Linked DNA regions of Homo sapiens. The protein of the gene in region 4 interacts with the protein of the main gene of each other region in a pairwise test. Each region holds a gene or a part of one and is shown on either strand. Other genes may lie near its edges.

What was found. Proteins that work in one complex are often made in the same cells at the same time.
Region 1: the proteins of TOLLIP (region 4) and NRF1 interact in binary tests that used the Homo sapiens proteins (3 or more experiments, as listed by UniProt).
Region 2: the proteins of TOLLIP (region 4) and PHAF1 interact in binary tests that used the Homo sapiens proteins (3 or more experiments, as listed by UniProt).
Region 3: the proteins of TOLLIP (region 4) and ARRDC3 interact in binary tests that used the Homo sapiens proteins (3 or more experiments, as listed by UniProt).

What each region holds. Positions count from the first base shown.
Region 1 is NC_000007.14:129,614,545-129,618,380, forward strand, and holds part of NRF1 (nuclear respiratory factor 1), read left to right. Parts: intron 1-3,836. UniProt on the Homo sapiens protein: Transcription factor that activates the expression of the EIF2S1 (EIF2-alpha) gene. Links the transcriptional modulation of key metabolic genes to cellular growth and development.
Region 2 is NC_000016.10:67,137,266-67,141,101, reverse strand, and holds part of PHAF1 (phagosome assembly factor 1), read right to left. Parts: intron 1,119-3,836; coding exon 985-1,118; intron 592-984; coding exon 508-591; intron 1-507. UniProt on the Homo sapiens protein: Plays a regulatory role in autophagic activity. In complex with BCAS3, associates with the autophagosome formation site during both non-selective and selective autophagy.
Region 3 is NC_000005.10:91,373,157-91,376,992, forward strand, and holds part of ARRDC3 (arrestin domain-containing protein 3), read right to left. Parts: intron 3,613-3,836; coding exon 3,465-3,612; intron 2,458-3,464; coding exon 2,355-2,457; intron 2,023-2,354; coding exon 1,766-2,022; intron 1,121-1,765; coding exon 958-1,120; intron 721-957; exon of another isoform or gene 683-720; coding exon 528-682; intron 1-527. UniProt on the Homo sapiens protein: Adapter protein that plays a role in regulating cell-surface expression of adrenergic receptors and probably also other G protein-coupled receptors.
Region 4 is NC_000011.10:1,292,600-1,297,653, forward strand, and holds part of TOLLIP (toll-interacting protein), read right to left. Parts: exon of another isoform or gene 3,929-5,054; coding exon of another isoform or gene 3,857-3,928; intron 3,196-3,856; coding exon 3,046-3,195; intron 1-3,045. UniProt on the Homo sapiens protein: Component of the signaling pathway of IL-1 and Toll-like receptors. Inhibits cell activation by microbial products. Recruits IRAK1 to the IL-1 receptor complex. Inhibits IRAK1 phosphorylation and kinase activity.

The sequences.
Region 1 (3,836 bases), on a different chromosome or scaffold from region 4:
GGGCTCAAGGAATGCACCCACCTCAGCCTCCCCAGTAGCTGAGACTATAGGCAAGTGCCACCGTGCTGGCAGTGGCTTCATAACATGTTTCAAGGAAATTTAGCTCCTGTGTTAAGAGAAGGAGCTATAGAAGTAGAAGATAATGAGGGCCCTTGTCCAGATATAGAAGGTTTAAAGGAGAAAGGATTTCAGGTTTCCTTCTGAATTCCTGTGTATGTCGTTAGGACCCCAAATTGTAGGTTTTTTGTTTTATTAAACGATAATTATGCACTTGTCTAATTTTGTTAGGGAACCGAAGGCCAACTTCCCATGATTTAAATACCTGAATTTGCATTGCCTGCACACTGTAGGTTCAACCAAATCTCTGGGTTGTCTTTAGAAGCATTTTATGTAAATAATCACGAATGAGTGACTTGTTTTAAGGGAAATTTAAGCTCCTGTGGTCTGGGATTAAATTTTTATGCCTTTTCTTGTATGGAATAAGGCATTCAGTAAAGTTGAAGAATAATAACAATGAACAGTAATTACTGAAATTAAAATTTTTCCCTGAGTATTTGAAAAGGCATGCTGATTTTTTGGTTTCTGGAGGAACTATGAACTGTCAGTCTTTAGAAACAGTCTACAGTCCTACCTCAACAGGAAGTTAATGTATACATTCAGCTTCTGTCAGATGTCTTTAGACAAGCCTGTTGCTTCATGCTGAAGCAGGCTTATTCATTCACACAGTGCCACTGTGAAAAATTGAAGGGTGAGGGGAAACTCCCTGGGCTGTTGAATTTCACAAATGTCTACTTTAACCTCAAGAGTTTAGATGCGCCCTTTCTGGGCCAGTAATCATCTAGGAAATGGGATATCTGAATTTAGATGTTTGTGTGTGACTGTGTGATGCTTATTAATATGTATATATAGAGTATTTGGAAAATCAATCTTAAAATGCAAATCTTTGATTTTGTAAAAAACATTTCAGGAAATGTTCTATACTAAAATACATTTTCTTTATGTTCTTTCATGTTTTCCTTGATAGCTAAAGCTAGTGTTTTCAGCCTGAGCTTACCCAAATATAATTTTCCATGAATGCTTAGTAAAACAGCAATGAAAAAGGAATCCACTTGTTATTTTAGAAACATTTTATTTAGACCAAGTCCAATGTTTTTTGAGTCTCAAGATACATGTTAATTTTTGTGCCTTGTGTATCATATTTCCTTCCTTATTAACTAGAGGGTGGATTACCCACTTTCTTGGGTTTTCAGTTAGTACTTTTATCCATCAGTTTTCTACTAAGGTAAACAGACTGGAAGATAAATAGTAAAAGGAGGTGAAACAAATGAATTTCAGGTGTTTCCAGGAGATTAAAACCATATTGAGCTATTGGAAACTTTTAATCCTCAAGCAACAACAATGCTTTGTTTGAAGTTATTTTAGTGCAATATGGACAAAACTTGGGAAAGGAATTTTTGACTGCTCAAGAAAAATAAGTGGATTGCTTATACCTTAGAATATATATATATACACACACACATATATATATTTTTTATTTTTTCAAAAGTGCACTTCAGAATTGGGCTAATGTATTTTCAGCCCAACTTAATGCAGTGTAGTTAGCAAAACATCCAAAAGGCTTCATCATGTTGTGGTCTTTAGGCCTAAAATGTTTTAAAATGTGAACATTTATGTGATACCAAGTAAACTTTCTATGACCCAAAGAAGGGCTAGAAATAAAACTTTACAGAGATGTTCTAGTATATTAGAAAACAATGGCTGGTTATGGTGGTTCATGCCTATAATCCCAGCACTTTGGGAGGCCAAGGCAGGAAGATTGCTTGAGGCTAGGAATTCTAGACCAGCCTGGGCAATGTAGTGACATCCTGTCTTTACAGAATATTTAAAAAAACAAAAAAACGAAAAACTAGCTGGGTATGGTGGCATATGCCTATAGTTTGAGCTATTCAGGAGGCTGAGGCAGGAGGATCACTTGAACTTAGGAGTTTGAGGTTGCAGTGAGCATAATCATGCCATTGTGTTCCTGCCTGGGCGACAGTGCGACCGTGTTTCTTAAAAAAAACTAGTTGCTGTTAAGGTAGGCCTACCACATTTGTAATCTCTTGAGGCAAATCTGTGTTGTTTCTCTAAGAGCAGTCACTTAGAAGATAATCTGACAGTAAGGAATGGTCTACTGAATCCCAGATCTGGTAGTCTGCCTTGCCCAATCACAACATAGTTTGTGTAAAACTCCAACTGCTACTGAACCATCAGATAATTTCTTGAGGAAGCCGTTTCTCTTAAGGAGAAGTGTGTGTGTGTTGGAGGGAGTGTTGGTGGGGAGAAGAGGGGTAAAGAGAAGATGATACTAGTAAAATAATCTAGTTTTGTAGGTTGGGATGATCACTGGAATTTTTTAGGGGAAATATTCTCAAAAAAAGTTGTAAGAGCTACTTTTGTATGGGTTATCAGTTTGGTGATTTAGACTATAGTAATTGCATTGTTTAATATGCATTGTATTTCGATTAATTCATGCATGCTGATTTCTGTGGTAACAAATGTGAAAAGTTTGGCTGATGGCTTAAGTGGACATTTTCTTAAGAACTCTTTAAGTGGTGCCTGTTGGGATAAACTATGCCAAGCCATTTTCTGAATCTTCATGAAGAATGAGCTTTGTATGCATATATATTAAGACAGTTTTTTTTAAAAAGAGCATGTATTTTACTGTTGGTAATTGTAAAGTTTTTGCTTTTTAGAACTTTAAGAGTCCGTTTTGTTGCTGCTACTGAATGCTAATGTGGTTAGGCTGGCAGCTAAACCTACAAAGAACAAGGGGAAATGAGGAAATGTCCCAATGAAACATTGCTTAAAACTGTTTGCGCAGTGGACTAGAAATGGGGAGTTGGGGACTAGGGGACCTGATTCTTGTTTTATGTTCAAAGGAGAGTGAAGCATTCTCTCCATTAAGAAATAACCTCCTTAAGTGTATTCTCACTTTGGAGTTTTGCCACTCATTCATTCACCTGACGATGATTAAAGATATACCACATTCTGGGCATGTACTAGGTGCTAGAGTAACAAATCTTGGGCCTTGTCGTGTAGAGCAGAAAGGTATGGGCTCAACTAGCTATGTTACAACTTCTAGAGAACCAAAATAGAGCAAACAAAGAGTGGTGTGGGATTATAGGAGGAGGGAGAAATTCCTTCTAGGGAGAGGAGAATGATACACAGAGAAAAGTGAGGTTAGGGAAGACTTTTCACATAGGGGAAGTTTGAGTAGGACTTGGAAGGGGGAGTAGCTGCATTACTGATGGAGAAGAGGGGCTGAGAGGAAGGGCATCAGTAGTCTGATTTGAGAACTAGCAAGTGGATTTTGCTCGACTTGGAGAATAGTGGAAAGTGAAACTGATAAGGTTGTGGCCATATTGGGAAGAGTTTGTAATTCCATGCTCATGAGTGTGAACTTTATTCTATAGGCATTTAGGGACCATAAGAGGTTTGAGTAGGACATCCACTATGGTTTTTAAAAAGATGACATGTAAAGATTTGACTAGAGACTTGTGAGAGTATTGAATTGTGATGTAAAAGGACATCGATTCTGGGGATAATTTTTACTTCACAGTTGTCAGATTTGAGTGACAATTGAGTAAAGAGTTAAAGATTATAGTGTGGTTATTGGGTGATGATGATGCCTTTAAGATAGGGAATGTATAGGAAGAACAGAATTTGAGGAGGAAGGTAATAGAGTATGACTCCAGATGTGTTAAGATATCTGGGAATCAAGAAAGGTCAAGTAAGTACCTGGGTATTTGGGCTGGAGCTCAAGGGGACATTGGGATAAATTAGGGGATTTGCAT
Region 2 (3,836 bases), on a different chromosome or scaffold from region 4:
TTCTCATGTATGCAACTCACCCACCAGCTGGACTGTCCGCACTGGCCAGCTACCAGCTATATCCAGCTCCCTGGGTCCATAGCACAGGGATACAGCAATGCCTCTGGGGTGGTCCTCTAAAAATATACAAGCACACCCCACTGTCTCCAATCCTTTTCAGTCTCCATTTTGTGACTCAAGAAGAGGGTCCTATGCTTTACAAAAGGGCAGCTCTCCAAACAGCTTAATCTGAATGATTTCCAAGGCCTCCATCTGTGGAACATGTTTCCCTCAGAAAAGAAGTCAACAGGTACCAGGGAACCTAGTGTTCCTGAGCAATCCTGGTTGCAGGCAAGGTCTACTTTGGAGTACCAGAGCCTATGCAAAACAACCCTGGGCAAAGACAGCTGGGGCTAGGTTCCCCAATGTCCAGGCATGGTTCCAGCTGCATGTGGACACACAGATCTGCAAAGATGCACTGCCCACCCCAATAGAAATGAAGGGCTTCTCTGAGGAATCACAACTTACCACTCCAAGAGTGAAGTAGTTAAAAAAGTAGTCATTACACTTCGATGGAACTTGTTTATGAGGGGAAGGAGAATGAATTTTCATCTGTAGGGAAAAAATAACCATAAATTAAAATCCATCCCTCTAATATAGTTCTGGATTAACTGAAAGTCTACAAATTGTGTTCCATGTGTAACATTAAGCTGCGGAACAAGCAAGAGTGGGGAGTCTCAGCTGCTGGTGCTGACCAATCTAGGAGGAGAGGGGGCCAGCTGTCGTTGACTAGGGACTGTCTTGGTCTCTAAGGAAAGGTAGGCACTATGGAGAGGGACAGAGTCAGGGTAATTGGACTACAGGGGTTAGAAAACAGTTTTCAATTTACTTTACCATTAGCTTTACTTAGAACAAGTTCTATGGGAAAATAGCAAACAGTTTATACTCAATATTAAATTAGTGTTGATTAAAAAAAAGGAGGAGACTGCAACATAATTCCCCTACCTTGTCTTCTGATTTATAGAAGACTTTGTGTGGAGAGCCAAGCATGCTAAGAACATCTTGGCAGGAATCACCAAAATACACTGAACGTTCAAATACCCGCATCTTGGCATCTGCTAATAGGCCAGGTCCACAACCTGCAAAAAACAAGACAGAGAGGTTGTCAGGTTATGGTTAGGACCAGAGACCCTCTCTGGGGGCCCCAGAGAAGCTACTGGCTGCATGCTACATTATTAGGTCTGGCAAGGGGCAAGACTGCATGCAATCAGAAACATCAGGTCACCAGGGCTTAAGACTGTACAAGAGATCGCTATTCAAAATAATGCCAGGGACTTATTCAATCCCCCACATGTGACATGAAGCTCTGGATACTTCATTCACTTATTCATTCACTACTTTATTGCCTACCATGGGCTAGGACATTGTGCTAGATGTTGAAGAAACAAAAGTGAACAAAAACAGTGCAGTTTCTGGCCAGACGTGGTGGCTCACGCCTATAATCCCAGCACTTTGGGAGGCCAAGGCGGATGGGTTGTTTGAGCTCAGAGTTTGACACCAGCCTGGGCAACATGGTGATACTCCGTCTCTACAAAAACATACAAAAATTAGCTGGGCATGGTGGTGGGTGTCTGTAGTCCCATCTACTTGGAAGGGTGAGGTGGGAGGATCACTTGAGCCCAGGAGGCAGAGGTTGCAGTGAGCCAAGATCACACCACTGCACTCTAGCCTGGGTGACAGACTGAGACAGTCTCAAAAAAAAAAAAAAAAAAAAAAAAAGGCAGTGCTGTTTTTTCTCCATAAGCTCCATCACTGGAGCTTATGTGTGCTGGAGAAGACCTTAATCAGATCATCACACAACTATGGTAAGATGCAAGGATTTATGTTAAGAGGTACTTCTTGGCCGGGTGTGGTGGCTCTTGCCTATGATCCCAGCACTTTGGGAGGCCAAGCGGGGTGAACTGCTTGAGCTCAGGCGTTCAAGACCAGCCTGGGCAACATGGTGAAACCCTGGCTCTACAAAATATAATATAAAAATTAGCCAGGCGTGGTGGCACACTCCTGCAGTCCTAGCTACTTGGGAGGCTAAGGTGGGAGGATCACTTGAGCCCAGGAGGCAGAGACTGCAGTGAGCTAAGATCACACCACTGCATTCCAGCCTGGGTGACAGAGTGAGACACTGTCTTAAAAAAAAACTACAAAAGTACTCTCAATGGTAACCCCTAACCAGAGACACTGAACCTGTAAAACTGCTCTATCAACAAGTAGAGTGAAGCATGCATTACTTGTCTCCCTAATTCTACACAAACACCTGACAGAGCCCTCCAACCCAGACAAGAGCCATTATCACTCAAAAGGGACAAACCAGCTAAGTGGAGGAATAAAAGACCTTCTGATTTGCCAAAAGTTTATTCTTTGGGAAGAATCTTTAAGCTCTGACTTTTTCTAATAAAACATTTCAGAAATGATTACAGTTAATGACACACACACAAACACACAAATGTAGAAGTGGTTGTGGCACAGTAATAGATACACCAACAGTAAAAATTTCCCCATTTTGTGGAGGGGGAGACAAGGTTTTTGCTCCCACCACCCAGCAAAAAAAAAAAGGAAGCCAAGAATCTGAGAAGGATTGTAATTCTTGGTGCCATGATAATCACTGACACCATCTTACTCAGCACAAGGCTTTACAGTTGTCAAAGTTCTCTCATGTGTAACAATCCATTTTTTATATGCAGAAGCTTCAGAGAACCCAAATCTGAAATAACTAAATACTGAGTTCAACTAACCCAAGAATCTCTATTCTCAGCAAGTATACACTGAGGGGGAAATAAAGGCTTAGGCAAGCCTTGGGTGACCTATAGAACCCACCAAAAGTCCTGTCAAGCTGGACTCTGGGCCCAAAGTATCCAGTGGCCTAACACATTTCTTCAGGCACCAGATACGTGTGGATGTCAGATGGGGGCTGTAAGGAAGGCACCCTTCAAAGGTAAGTCTTCTGTCTCCCTCTGCTTGAAGTATATCCAGGTATAATTACTAAGAGTTTCAGCTACTTTTTAGATTGTGATTCCCCAAAGTGTATCTTTCTACAAATTATTGTGGAGACCAGATGGCTGAACTGACTCCCTGCATTAAAAGCATCACTGCAGCCATATTCCATAAGGAAGGATATGAGAAATGAGTGGGTTGAGAAACTTGTGCTTGCCACAGGAAACTCTCAGTGAAGACGATAACCCTTTGAGGCCCTGACTTAACAAATCATTTGCCCTGCTGACAGTGTAAGCAGTGAGCAGTGTGACTGCTGGGAATGTGCTGTACAAGGTGGCAGACATAATTGGCTGAGAGCCCACCCTCGACAGGCTCCTCCTGCTGTCTCCTGGGATGATTAATGACCCTGATCCTTGACCACCCTGCTGTTTCAAGCAGTGATCCTCTTGGGAAAAAACCACACTAAATCACTTGACTTTGCTGCCACATCTCAATTCTCTCAAAAACTATAGCTCAGGCTGGGTGCGGTGGCTCACACCTGTAATCCCAGCACTTTGGGAGGTTGAGGCGGGCGGATCACTTGATGTCAGGAGTTTGAGACCAGCCTGGTCAATATGGTGAAACCCCATCTCTACTAAAAATACAGAAATTAGCCTGGCGTGGTGGCACACGTCTGTAATCCCAGATACTTGGGAGGCTGAGGCATGAGAATCGCTTTAACCCAGGAGGCAGAGGTTGCAGTGAGCTGAGATCACACCACTGCACTCTAGCCTGGACAACACAGCAAGACTCTGTCAAAAAACAACAACAACAAAAAACCCCAAAACCATAGCTTAAGCATGACACTCCTTTAAGTGGTTGTTCTGTCT
Region 3 (3,836 bases), on a different chromosome or scaffold from region 4:
TAAGGGCCATGTTTTATTTACATTTAAGTGCTTAGCTGCCATCAATATGAGATGAACGAAAATAGTCTAACCATGTGGGAATGTTGTTTTAAGATGTTATCACAAATACATTATTTCTTATGACTGAGAATGTCAAAATATGCAATTGGAAAAGCATCATGAATAAGATAAATTCTACTATTTAATCAGTGTTTGCAAAATGCTAGTTCTTCCTATTGATGCTTGGATATACAAAATTCTTCCTTCAAAAAATGTGTCTCAAGATAAAAGTTTAAGAGAAAAAAAAATTAGTAATTCAACATGAGGTTAGATCATTATCTTAATTCCCTAATAAGTGAACAGTCCTACCTCTGCATCAAACTTAGTAAATATTGATGAACCTAATATTAACTTTTAATCTGTTGTTTTAAATTATTTGTTCTGTTAACATGATAATCAAGATCTAATAACATTAAGAAAAAAAAATGCCTGCAATGCTATTTCCCAAGATAGCCAGTTCATTTCATACTTAAGGAGTAGGTACTTACCTCTGAATAAAGAGGTGGAGGCAAGAATCGAAACTCCTGGATATATGCAAACAGTGGTCCTTGAAGGGCTCTCTCAAAGTCATCACAAGCACTCACTGGTGCAAGATTGTTCCGCCTTTGTTCCTCTGTTACCACTTCTGCATAGCTGGGTGGTGCTGAAGGAAAAAGATACACGCAATTCGAACAGCATGTTCTTATGCATGTCAAAATACACAGAATAGTAGGTATTAAAAAGCAACGTCAAGGTAAAATAATTATTGTTTGGTGATCAAAACTATGAAGACATATAATCAAAACTGAATATTAGGGGCACATCTACTTTCTTTAGGAAAAGATTATGTTCATCTAGGGTCATAAAATATCAGAGGCAAAATAATTTTCTTGATAATAGTAGTAAGAGATTAAGCTTAGACGTGTATTATCAAATTACCTTCAGGTCTTTCAGGAAGTGATAAACTGAGCCAGTTCATATTCATGCTACACTGACTGCTTACACTTGAGGTTCTGCTACCAAATGGATGTAGAGGAATGGTACCGATGACAAGTGGCAAATTAAGAAATAAATCCATAGCTCCAGGAATATCCACATATACCTAAACATTGCAAAGAAATATTAAGTTTAGAATGCCAAGTATGATTTCCTTTTCAAAAACTCATAACCAATTTTAATGTTATTTGAAACCCCCATTTACTTCATTTTTAAACTTACATACATGAAAAGTTTCTCTTTTATGTATAATTCTGTATAGTACATTTACATATAAGGTATAATTGTAAGTCAAACTATATAAAGAGTTATGTATTTTATATGTCACTATATATGGAATTTAAAAAAATCAAATCCTGGATGTAAGACAAAACTATGTCATAACTTTAAGACTTAAAAACAAAACAAAAAAAAACACCAAAAACCTCTTGGGCCAGGCACTGTGGCTCATGCCTATAATTCCAACATTTTGGGAGGCCATGGTGGATGGATCACTTGAGCCCAGGAGTTCAAGACCAACCTGGGCGACATGGTCAAACTCCATCACTACAAAAAATACAAAAATTATCCAGGCATGGCTATAGGCACACCTGTAGTCCCAACTACTTGGGAGCTGAGGTGGGAGGATCACTGGAGCCCAGAAAGCAGAGGCTGTAGCGGAGCTGAGACTGTGCCACTGCATTCCAGCCTGGGTGACAGGTGTTTCAAAAAAGAAAAAAGAAAGGAAAAAACCTCTTAAATGTGTACATACCATTAGTGAATATTCCACGCGGATTATACTACAGTCGAGGATAGAGGGAGAAACTGGTGGAATTTTCAGCAACTTGCCATTCCACGTCTCTGTCTTTCCAGATGATAAGGATTCCCCACGCAAGTTAGCCACAAGCTGTTTTACTTCCTTCATTTTCCCTTTGGCATAGAAGGCCTGTGTTTGGTAAATGGCTGCCTTTGGCACCACCATTCGGGAAGAGCAGTTCTCAATCTCAGCAAATATCTGAATTGATTCACCTAGAGAGGGAAAAATATATACATATCTACTGTTAGAAAAAAACAACAAAAGAAGTCAAGATTCTTAAAGCTAAAGTAAGAAAGTGCAACTAACATACATGAAAAGATGTCCCAGGAACTGCAAATAACTTGAGTCATAGAAATGAACTAATCAGTAGCTATTTGAAAAAGGAAACTACATTCTACTTTGTGAAAAAAACAAATGGATAAGCACAATTTGTTATTTCACAAAAGAATACTATATTATGTTTATATTTAGTAGTCATATTATAAATTTAAACACAAAAGCTAAGTGAAGAAAAGTTTTTTGTGGGAATCTACCTCTTACATACCTGGGGTATAGCCCTTCCTTTCAATTTTGGCACTTAAGGATATTGGGCCTGAGGTACAGAACCAGCAACAGAGTGTCTTTTCTTTTGTGCCTGCTTGGGGTGACTGTAAGAAAAAAATTAAGAGAAAAAGGTCAGTGTATGGATTGGTACAATCAATACCAGAATATTTTAAAATATAACCCTAAATTTATGGAAAATTAAAAATTACAACTGGTTTTGCTTTTTTTTTGTATCCAGACATACTTCTTATTTTTTAACTAACCGATGGTTTTGAATTATACCATTACTTTTATTTTCATATAAATTTCCATTCAATTAGAAAAAAAAGGTAAAGGGTTTACAGCCTATCCCATAAACATAGTTTTTTAGCTCACACTATTTACAAATATAGTAATCAAAAACCAACCAAATAAAAAAAACCCTTTCCACATTCCATTTAAACTGCCTTAAAAAGGCAGCAAAGAAAGCAATCTGATTATAATTCCAAATGTTAACATCTTTCTCTGAGACTATTAAAAAATCAATATGTAAAAAAGGAAAATGCCCATTTCTTATGTGCTTTAAAGATGTTACCATTTGTTTAAATCAAATAAAGTTTTAAGTCAAATTTGAATTATTTTCAGACAAATGCAATTAAAAATAGATTTCTTTAAAAAAGGAGTTTTTTAATGAAACTAATGATTCCCCATTATTTGACAACTATCCCTCTATTGGAATAACAAAGTATAGTACAAATTTTAGATTATGATATTGTCAAGTAAGTGATATTGTATTATAATAAAAGATACTACTGCTCTTCTTCCACTCAAATCATCCAAGGACCAGATCTGTTTTTTGTTATGGCTGTCATACTCTGAGTAAGAGATACTTCATATCATATACTGGTCTTAGTTTTATATTTACTTAAAGGTATACTACAATGTCAAAAATATGAGCATATTTTTCATTAATTTCAGTGTTCTTGACTGTATTTAAGAAAATGTATATTTATGAAATTTTAAAAGAAAACCAGTATTTTTAAATTATGACAACTGCATAGTTTAGGTGATTGATTATTCTTTAATATTTATATGCCAAAAACAAAGAATAAATAATTCAGTCAATTCTTACCAGTAATGAAGGAGTGTTGATATCTATATGCTCAAAGACTGTAAATTCCTTCTTTAATTTTACTGGTAGTAGCCAAGGCCTGTGCAATTCGGCTTTCACCCAATAGCGCACACTGCCATGTCGGCCTTCGAATGAGGTAGCGAGTGGTCTGTGCAGAATATAAAGGTCAATATATTAATTTTATACCTCTTTCTAACAATTACACAGTAGGTCAGAATAGAAGTGTTAATATATTGTATTGTTTATGTTCCAATGAGGTATCAAACATATAATTTAAAAAATTTCCAAAGGGATAAGTCACTGGGGAAAAAACTTCCTATTTCCAACTAAGAATAAACAATAAATATCTTTAAAATTTTGCTTTAAAAAGCC
Region 4 (5,054 bases):
CATCTGCCCATTCACTATGACTGCACACAACCACATGCTGTTCTGGTGCAGGAGACACTGTGGACACCGTGGGGACACACGGGCACCGCTGCCTCCCCCACAACGGGCAAGAGACGCACGTCAGACAGCAGACACCGTGGGGACACACGGGCACCGCTGCTTTCCCCACAATGGGCAAGAGATGCGCGGCAGACACACAGCGCAGCAGACGGCGTTACCACTGCAGGGAGTGACCAGCTAGGAGGACCGGGTATGCGGGCTGCAGGATCTGGAGGAAGAGCTGCAGGAAGCGGGAGGAGAACGGCCAGGGAAGAGGAAGGTCAGGAGTGACTAGGGTGAGGAAAACATGGGCCCAGCTGGAGCAGGCTCGGCAGGACAGTGCCCACGAGAAAGGCCCACGCGGGAACGGACCTACTCTGGCCACGCTGCAGGGGCTGAGCGGGGGCAGTGGGTGGGTGCGGGGGGCTCCAGGCCTGGACGGGCTGAAGGTGGCGCCTGTGCTGAGGGTCAGGCCTGAAGGGCAAGAGGTGGACATGAACCTGGAGCACCAGCAGCACGAGGGCTTTGGGCCTCAGCTTCCAGAGTGTGGGGCAGCCACCTGCGGACACGGGGGAGAAGCCGGGAGGGTGGCCCGAGAGCTCCACCTTGGGCACACGGAGTCCGGAGTGCCCACGGAACACCTGGGGAGGCCATGTGGCCATGGTCCGTACCTAGGGATCTGGGGTGGAGCTGAGTGGTCGGCTCAGGCTGGGGCCAGCACATGGGTGTTTAGACCCACAGGGATGCAGAAGTCACCGGGATGTGTGGGCAGAGAGGGGAGGAGGGCTGAGGACCAGACCCCTTGGCATCCCACTGGGGCCCCAGGAGACAACAAGGGGAAGCAGCGAGGGGACGCAAGCAGGGAACCACCTGTGTGGCCGCCCAGAAGCCAAGAGAAGCAGGAAACAGGGGCTGAGCTACCTGGCCCAGTGAGGAGGCAGGAATGTTTCCCACCACTGGAGCTGCGCCACAGAAGGCTGGGTGAGCTCACGTGGAGGAAACAGGCTGCCTGTGGTGGGCTCCAGGGTGCGGGAGAGGACCAAGGGGGGCCAGAGGCGTGGGCAACGCCAGGGCCACCTCCAAGGCCCAGCCAGCTCTGGAGCTTGAACTGTGTGAGGTGGAGTGCCCTGCGGTCACCAGGCCCTGCCAGGAGGTGGCGGCTGAGGACGGGTGATGGCACTGGCTGGCCTGGTGGCAGCTGGCACAGGAATGCATGGGCTTACGGGAGTTCACTGGGTGGGCAGAGGGATCGGCCACACCAGCACAGTAACAGCTGCACAAGCAAGGGTCTGAGACACGCCGCGAGGAAGGGGTGACGGTGTAGCTGTGCTCACCACACCATGAAGCCCCTGAAAGCAAGTCTTATTTGTGAGGTCCACGGCGATTCTTCTGCCTGCTGTATTTGTGCATTTCTATGAAAGCCGCGTGGCTCACAGTGTGTCTCCTTTCCCTGCATTTCTACGAAAGCCCGCGTGGCTCACAGTGTGTCTCCTTTCCCTGCATTTCTACAAAAGCCCGCATGGCTCAGTGTGTCTCCTTTCCCTGCATTTCTATGAAAGCCGTGTGGCTCACAGTGTGTCTCCTTTCCCTGCATTTCTACGAAAGCCCGCGTGGCTCACAGTGTGTCTCCTTTCCCTGCATTTCTACGAAAGCCCGCGTGGCTCACAGTGTGTCTCCTTTCCCTGCATTTCTACGAAAGCCCGCGTGGCTCACGGTGTGTCTCCTTTCCCTGCATTTCTACGAAAGCCCGCATGGCTCAGTGTGTCTCCTTTCCCTGCATTTCTACGAAAGCCGCGTGGCTCACAGTGTGTCTCCTTTCCCTGCATTTCTACGAAAGCCCGCGTGGCTCACAGTGTGTCTCCTTTCCCTGCATTTCTACGAAAGCCCGCGTGGCTCACGGTGTGTCTCCTTTCCCTGCATTTCTACGAAAGCCCGCGTGGCTCACGGTGTGTCTCCTTTCCCTGCATTTCTACGAAAGCCCGCGTGGCTCACGGTGTGTCTCCTTTCCCTGCATTTCTACGAAAGCCCGCGTGGCTCACGGTGTGTCTCCTTTCCCTGCATTTCTACGAAAGCCCGCGTGGCTCACGGTGTGTCTCCTTTCCCTGCATTTCTACGAAAGCCCGCGTGGCTCACGGTGTGTCTCCTTTTCCTGCATTTCTACGAAAGCCCGCGTGGCTCACGGTGTGTCTCCTTTTCCTGCATTTCTACGAAAGCCCGCGTGGCTCACGGTGTGTCTCCTTTCCCTGCATTTCTACGAAAGCCCGGGTGGCTCACGGTGTGTCTCCTTTCCCTGCATTTCTACGAAAGCCCGCGTGGCTCACGGTGTGTCTCCTTTCCCTGCATTTCTACGAAAGCCCGCGTGGCTCACGGTGTGTCTCCTTTCCCTGCATTTCTACGAAAGCCTGCGTGGCTCACAGTGTGTCTCCTTTCCCTGCATTTCTACGAAAGCCTGCGTGGCTCACAGTGTGTTTCCTTTTCCTGCAGTCTTACAGACGGTTTTCGTGTGATCAAAATCGGCGTTCAATCTGCCGATTTTGGCTTTCACTTGAAAGACCACTAAGCAACCACGGGCCGGCCCCGAGGCTGACCGAGGGCTGCTCTGTGGGGAGGGAGGGTGCAGGCACCGGCACTGAGGCCAACAGGAAGCCACTCACGCAGCACACACCAGGTGGCGGGGGTGCCGGCCGCGCCTCCTCCAGCTGCCGGCGGGGGTCCGGGAGGTGTCCTTGGGCGTACTCAAGCCTGGTGGAAGAGCCAGGCCCTACACAGAGCAGACGCCCACCTACACCCACTACTCATCACTTGAGTTATGTTTGGTAGAACCCGGGGTCAATGCCAATATCTTTCACACAGATCGTTTTCAACATCACACAGGTTTCAGGAAAAGCGGGAATCAGAAGTTCTGTTTGCCCGCTTAGGAAATGCAGTATAAACGCCGAAATCCGAAATCCCACCCCCACCGAGCGCACCAGCCCCAGGCAGGCAGGAGGGTGCCCCAAGGCCCACCTGTACCACCGTGATGTTCAGTCGGCCCACGGTGCCCACTGCGCCTCCGTACTGCAGCTGCTGGGCCGCCTGGGCGTCCAGCTGGACCTGCCGCTGCTGCTGTGTGGGCGTGATGCGGAGGAAGTCCTGCGGGAGCTCACCGATGTACACCTGCGGGGCCGGGGACCAGAGAGGCCAGTGAGTCAGGGTGGGGGCACAAAGCAGCCCGACAGCAGCTGCCCCCGGCATTCCCGCGGCCCCGCCCCCACCCATGTCCTTATCAAGTCCTGGACTGTGCTCAGCCTCAGTTTCCTCATCTCTAAACGGAGGGGTCAAGGGTGTCCAGCCTGGGGCCTGGCCCCCAGCGGTACAGGTGCAGCCCTCACTCAGGAGATCCCCAAATGCAGGTTTCTGCCGCTAAAAATGGGTTCCTGTCCTCAAAGCCTGCTCAGGTGGGTTTTCAGGTCATTTTAAAGGGTCTCCCTTGCACCATGTGTGCCCACGGCTTCTTTCTCCTTGTCCACAGCTAAAGGCAGGGCCACTGAACTGCAGGTCACTTGGTCAAACGAATGAGACAAAAGCTGAGCCTCAGGTCTAAAGTGATTTGGAAAACCCTCTGCTGATATACTTCAAATGTTTCCACATGAAACAGCTGAAATTCAAAAGTATCCCAGAAGAACGCAGGAAGTAAATCGATTCCAAACAACCACGAAAGACCTCCCCACTCTGCATCCTATGTCTCCTCGACCCTCTGTCCACCACTGCCACTTCTGAGGGGAAGAGAGAGGATGGGCCCAGGCAGGACAATGCCATCCCGAAACCACCCGCACACCTGCAGCGGCCGAAGGGGCCTGGGGTAAACCATGCTCCACAGGTGAAAGGTCGCTGATGAGGCCCTGAGCATGGGTCTGGCTGCTGGTGGAGTGGGGTGGAGGCCTGGTTGCTGGAGGAGTGGGGTGGAGGCCTGGTTGCTGGTGGAGTGGGGTGGAGGCCTGGTTGCTGGTGGAGGCCTGGTTGCTGGAGGAGTGGGATGGAGGCCTGGTTGCTGGTGGAGTGGGGTGGAGGCCTGGTTGCTGGTGGAGTGGGGTGGAGGCCTGGTTGCTGGAGGAGTGGGGTGGAGGCCTGGTTGCTGGTGGAGTGGGGTGGAGGCCTGGTTGCTGGTGGAGTGGGGTGGAGGCCTGGTTGATGGAGGAGTGGGGTGGAGGCCTGGTTGCTGGTGGAGTGGGGTGGAGGCCTGGTTGCTGGTGGAGTGGGGTGGAGGCCTGGTTGCTGGTGGAGTGGGGTGGAGGCCTGGTTGCTGGTGGAGTGGGGTGGAGGCCTGGTTGCTGGTGGAGTGGGGTGGAGGCCTGGTTGCTGGTGGAGTGGGGTGGAGGCCTGGTTGCTGGTGGAGTGGGGTGGAGGCCTGGTTGCTGGTGGAGTGGGGTGGAGACCCAGCCGTCTGCAGGGGCCCCGGTCAGCGCCAGTGCCCTGGGCAGTTGTTTTCAGGAAATACCGAGTGGAACCTGGAACCCTCGGTGTGTCGGACGTGAGCTTAGGCAAAGTGCACGTGCTGAGGCCGCCAGAACGCCTCTGCCATGCACACCAGAAACCCGTACCTGCCTGTGCCATGGACTCCCAATGACACGGTGCCAGGCAGGGCTCCAGGAGGTTCTGAGTTAAGCCCTGCACCTGCTGTGCTCTGGGCGCCTGGCACTTCAAAGGACCCCGAGAGGGTCTAGCTCCTCACCTGTGTCCCCATCTAAGGCCTGGAGCGCACAAGCCAGTCAGCGCTCCACAACCAATGTGAGTAAACAGAAGGGACCCGGACGATCCAGGCACCGCTTCGAGCAGTTACGGACTCAGGACCCCCAAGTTCGGGAAGCTCTCTGCAGGCTGCACCCCAACCTGAGCAGCCAGCATGGCGTGTGCTCAACCGCTCTTCTCTAAAAAGCAAAACACACTTTGTGCGTTTCCCCACACTTTACCCCGTTTTTGACTGGGACACGTCACGAGTGACCTTTGCCCTGTGAGAGAAGCCGTACTGCGAGAAC